2 separate regions of the Homo sapiens genome follow, and region 1 is linked to region 2. The links come from fine-mapping of genetic effects on gene expression. A gene starts in region 2. The other region holds a variant in brackets. All regions are shown on one strand. Distances are from middle to middle.

What was found. PIP is the estimated chance that this variant, and not a neighbour inherited with it, causes the effect.
Region 1: its variant is the best candidate, but not a certain one, in a credible set for the expression of LINC02767 in ovary (GTEx, PIP 0.53).

Annotation. Positions count from the first base shown.
Region 1 is chr1:207,967,265-207,970,175 of GRCh38, reverse strand. LINC02767 (long intergenic non-protein coding RNA 2767) reads right to left here. Exons shown (of 3, transcript NR_167983.1): 3 at 2,034-2,719. Among named protein-coding and RNA genes, the nearest start is that of LINC02767, 9.7 kb to the right of the region's middle. The variant G/T (reference allele first, on the strand shown) is at 1,440.
Region 2 is chr1:207,957,597-207,960,507 of GRCh38, reverse strand. LINC02767 (long intergenic non-protein coding RNA 2767) reads right to left here and starts at 1,517. Exons shown (of 3, transcript NR_167983.1): 1 at 1,433-1,517; 2 at 269-393. RefSeq lists enhancers at 1,045-1,544, 1,545-2,046.

The DNA.
Region 1 (2,911 bases), 9.7 kb before region 2:
GTTACCCTAGTTGGCCACCGGGTATTGAGGCTCAGGGAATGAAACCACTTACTCTGTGGCTTGCTACAAAGAAAATGTCTGTGCCACGGGCTCCAGTTGAATAGAATACCCCCTAACATCTCAGAGTGCATTCTTGACCATCGGCTTCATGCTATGCATTGTGTAAATATAACATAAATCAAAACTATGACCGCTCTTTCAGATGAAGAAACATGCATCATGAGGATAAGTCATTTGCTTCATACAGTCATACATGGAGTTAAGGCTTAGAGGGTGTCATAGGCTGCAATTGTGCTGCCTGTCCGGAACTGAGCTCCCTACTTCTTCCAGTAAAAGATTTCTGTGGGGAATCCATTGCCAGTGGTCTGGATGGCATGGCCACTGCCCCTCTTCAGGGATGGGCACAAGACCCTAGCCTGGCCAATCAGAATATCTCATGCCCTTGGTCACAGTGATTGGGTTGGGGTAGTCATGTGACCCAAACCCAGCTAATCAGATCTTCCTATAGGACTTTTCTGCCAAAGCTAGTGGGGAAGGAGCTTTACTCTTCCTGGGGTTGGTTGCTAACTGGTAGGATGTGAGCCTTAGGCTACTACTCCACCATGCCTAAAGCCAGACCTACGCTCTGGACTTTCCACTTAGATTACCCAAAATATTCCCTTCGTGCTTGGTAATAGGAGGCTACAATTATTTACTTTATAGCTTCATTAATATAGGCTATAATTAGCATCTCCTACCCATCCTCAAACTTCATCTTGCAAATTCAAGGTGTTTATCAAGGCAGGCCTGGGAGCTGGGGTGGTCTCCTGCATCTCAACAGACGCTGGATTATACAGCTTTGTAGGACCCTCCCAGTTTCCAGATGCTTCCCTTGTATGAAAACCCCCTTTCCTATTATTATCCCTGTGTATGCTGACAGGTGTGTTTGTAAAGTTTCTCCTACCCCCCGCCCCCCACCTCCTGCAAAGACTTCTGTCTCTATCAGTAATTGTAAACTCCTGAGGGTAGGGCAAGCAACCATTCCTAGGTCGTCTTTGTCTCCATCAGTTCCTGGTCCAAAGCTCTCAAGTCTCTGATGTGGCTTCTGGTAGTTTGAGGGTATCGGAGTGTTGATGTGTACATGAATGTGTAATTGAAGAGATGGGGGATTGAAGAGGAAAGAACTGCCAAAAAGCATAAACGCTGTGCCAGAGACAGAGAGAGAGAGAGAGAGAAAATAAAGATCTGAGCACAGAGGCCTCCTTGAGTTTGCAGCATCTGGGAGGCTCTGCTCACTAAGTTCAGCTGGCTTTATGTCGTCATTTATTCAGGCCCCACCTTCTACCAAGAGAGAACTGAAGGAATCCACAACTATGGCTACTGAGATACAGACAAGGATGACATAATGTTTACTTTCTTAATTGTGTGTCTTGCCTTCCCCAGGAAAATTTGGCAGGCAG[G/T]CGTGGGGGTTGTTGGTTTTGTTTTTTATTTTTTGTTTTAAGAGACAGTGTCTCGCTGTGTGGCTCAGGCTGGACTCGAACTCCCAGGCTCAAGCCACCCTCCAGCTTCAGCCTCCCAAATAGCAGGGATTACAGATGCCTGCCACCAGGCCTGGCCTCCCAGGAGAATGCACCTGCTGCTGCTGTCCCATCTGCACACTCACACCATGGCTGGCCCACAGAGTGACATTTCCCCACCACAGCACAGGCTTTGGCAGCTTAGAAGCAGACAAGGGCAAAAGACTGAATAGTGTCTTCCCAAGATTGGAAACAAGGCTCAAATGTCTACCTTTTTAAAAAATATATTTAATATACAACTGAGGTTCTACCCAGTGCAACAAGGCAAGAACAAGAAGTGAAAAGCATAAGTTTTGGAAACGAAGAAGTAATGTCGTGTATATTCACAGACATTGTGATTTGTGTACATAGAAAATTCTAAGAAATCTAGAAAAATACAACTAATGCATGAATTTAGCAAGTATACAGGATACAAAACCAATATGTAAAAATCAGTTGTATTTGTATATACTCACAAAAAACAATTGGCAACTGAAATCTTAGAAACATTTTTTATTTTAAATATTTTAACAAAACATTTAAACATTTTATGTAAATCATTTATATAAATCTTGACAACCCCTGACCCAGTTACTGTGGTCCTGGGCATGAGGTATTCTGATTGGCCAGGCCAGGGTCTTGTGCACATCCCTGAAGAGAGGCAGTGGCCATGTCATCCAGACCACTGGCAATGGATTCCCCACAGAAATGAGAGTTTTTTTTTAACCAAAGGCCGTATGCACCCTGGGTGTGGGCCTGACCCATACATCCAACATACCTGTGTATCTTAGTTTCTAGGGCTACCATGATATAGCACCATGAACTGAATATGAGATCACAGAAATTTATTCTCTTACACTTCTGGAGCTAGAAGTCCAAAACCAAGGTGTTGCAGAGCCACGCTCCCTCCAAAGCCTATAGGGGAAGGATCCTTGTTTCTTCCAGCTTCTGGGAGCCCCAGGAGTTCCTTCCCTTGTGGCCACATAACTCCAATCTCTGCCTCCATTCCCAATGTAGCCATCTTCCTAGGTCATCTTTGTCTCCATCAGTTCCTGGTCCAAAGTTCTCAAGTCTCTGACGTGGCTTCTGGTAGTTTGAGGGTATCGGAGTGTTTATGTGTATATGAATGTGTAATTGGAGAGATGGGGGAATGAAGAGGAAAGAACTGCCAAAAAGCATAAACGCTGTACCAGAGACAGAGAGAGAGAGAGAGAGAGAGAGAATAAAGATATGAGCACAGAGGCCTCCTTGAGTTTGCAGCATCTGGGAGGCTCTGCTCAGTAAGTTCAGCTGTGTCTCTGTGTCCAAATTCCCCTCTTCTTTCGAGGACACCAGTCACATTGAATTAGGGCTCTCCCACCCTATCCCAGGATGAC
Region 2 (2,911 bases):
CATTGAGCAGTGTGGGGTAGAAATGAGGATGGGAAGGGTCCAGGTGGGGGTGGTGTGCAAGGCTGACCCAGGGGTCCCCAGTCCCAGACCCTACCTCTTGCACTCTGACCCGCCTAGGGAAGCGTGGCTGAGGAGGTAGGGAGAAAGAAAGGTCATGCTTTCAGCCTGGACTTCAGGACGTGGCCTGAGGACAGGTCAGAAGAGAATGGTATCCGTCACCATCTTACAGTTTTAAAATTCTTTGTATGGCGTCAATGTTCTCACTTACCGAGAAAGTACAGTCTCTGGAGTTAGAGACAGGTTCAAGTCATAGGTCTCCACTTACCAGTGGTGTAACCCTGGCAAGTCACTTTCCTTGGGTGAGATCCCATTTCTCCATCAGCAGAATATGGCCTGTAAAATCGTTGGAAAGATAAAAATAACATACGTAAAGTACATGGAAAATAATAAGCACTCAAATGGTAGCTATAGTTATTTATAACCAAGAAAACAGGGGGAGTGGATTTCTCCAGGTTGGACAGCTGATAATTGGTGGAACCAAAATTCCAAACTACTCCCCAGAAGCTTCAGTTCCTTATCCCAAGGCCCCTCTGCTCCCCGGAAACTAAGTCTCATACTTCTGTAGCCAGGTGCGACCCTCCAAGGCAAATCTCTGCCCACCGACTCACAGAGAGGGAACCCCCACCAAGAACCCGCTGGAAGCCTGGCGCCACACAGCTGCACTATCTGGAACCTCGCGCGACTGCAGCCCTGGGGGGCGCGCCCGGAACCGAAATGGCTCAAGAGACTTGAGGACCGGCGCGTCTCCTTTCTCCGGCCCCAGTCCCCAACTCCCGCCACAGCGCAGAGGGGGCAGTGCGGTGGGAGGGGGGGAGTTGTGGGGCTGGGGCTCCGGCCTGGCCGGTGAAGCCCCAGGACCCGTCCGCTTGGGGTTAAGGCAAGGGGTGCGGCACGAGGAGCGCAGGGAGCCCCGAGTCCCAGGCGCAGACCCAGCTGCGGACCCGCCGTACAGCCCTGGTGTTGCAAGCGTGGACCGTGGGCGTAAGGCCCCGGCGGGAGGCACTCGGCCCGGCCGCGGCCGGGTCTGCAGGGTCCTGGCGCAGCGGATCCCGGCGCGCCCTGGCCCGCGGCCCGCAGGGTTCAGACGGGGCCGAGACAGCCAAGCCCGGTTCGCTCGCGCCAGGCGCTGGAGCCAAGGCTGACGGGCGGTTCTGAATCATGTTTGGAGGAGCGGCGCGGCCCCCAGGGCTCCGCTGAGACGCGCTGCAGGGCTGTCCGGGCCCTCCCTCGGCGACGCGGCCAGCAGCCCGCGCCGCGTCCTCAGCGGCGGCAAAAACTAGGAGTCCCGGGGCTCTGCCGGGCGCCGGCACTGGAGGGCAAGAGATGCTGGCTTCCCCCGGGGCTCATCACCCCGGGGTTCCACAGCACTTACGTGGGATGGGGACCCCGGAGTAGACCACGGACGGAAAGGAACGGTGGTTTCATTCTCTGCAAAAGAAATCCTCGCGCGCACACGGGTGCCCCGGGCCAGGCAGACCTCCAGCAGAGGCGCCCAGGTGGGGCGTGCAGAGCTTCTGAAAGTGGGCACCTACTTTAGGAGGCTGGCAAGCACAGAGAGCCCAGAATCACCTGTGCCGAGCCCTCAAGGGGGCCTTCTCACAGCCCTGATGTGCCCCCTTACTGCGATTAAGGCTGTTTGCGAGTCCTAAAGAGCTTGCGTTATGCAGGGCACTTTCAACCAACCATTCCTCTATGTACAGCAACCTGTGAAGCTGGCAGGACCAGTACCTTTATTCGTTTTACAAGTGAGAAAGCAAAGGGGTGGGAAAGCCCTAGGGTTCTGTGCCCGACTGCCTAGTCAGGCCCTGCCAACCAAAGATTGAAGTCCGTTCTTTCTCTCTCCTGCCAGGAGGCGAAGAAGTGTCCACCCTGTCTATTGAGAGGCCTCTACTTTAAGAATTAAGCCAGGCAGTCGCTGCTGTGTGGAGGGGTGTTGACAGCAAGTGACAAGGAAGCAAGTCTTTATCGCAGGAAAAATTACTTAAGTGGACTCCTTAGCAGCCTCCTTTCCATTTGGAATGAAGATTAGCACCCCTAGCCCTAGAGCTGTGATTCTCAAAGTGTGGTGCCCAGACTAGCAGCAGAAGCATCACCTGGGAACTAGTAAGAAATGCATCTTAACTGCCCCCTCCTAGGCCTCCTGGATCAGAAGCTTTGAGGTAGTGCCAGCCCAGCAATTTATTTTTTTTGCTTTTCATACATATATATATCTCCACAATGGATGAAAGAGAACAATCATCAAGGATGTAGGTACCAGACACAGGGCAGAAGGTAGCTAGAAAAGTATGCCTGAAGGAAGTTAAGGACCCTAGCCTCATTCCTACCTCGTTTCAATAGGTGGACCTAGCATAAATAGGTTACTTTTCCATTGTTCTAGCTTCCTCTGCCCCATCTACAAACATGGCACAGCTGGCTTGCCTTGCAAGGCCTCAGCTGAAGGACCCCATGTACACACAGGCCAGTACAGCAGTATTAGGATCTAGAAGAATCTCATCCCCATATATGGTCTCACTCCAAGTCTATGGCCGAGTACCTTCATTGTTGTGTGCAAGATGGTGTCATCCCTTGAAAATATGGCCGCTTCAGCATAAAATAGTTAAATCTTTATAATGGTCGATTATCTCATCCTACCCCCTTTTACATGCAGCTGAAAAACGGCAGGCTAGGGACATAGAACATTGTGGACTTTATACTGTTAGAATCGCTGCCCATCAAATGATCACTAGCTAATGGTCACTAAATTTACAAATTAAGGAAATTATCTATAGAATACTGCAAAGACACAGTAAAAAGACTGAAGTTTGCCCATTTCTGCTCAGGAAGTCCCTTCACTCCTAAGCTTCATATGTTG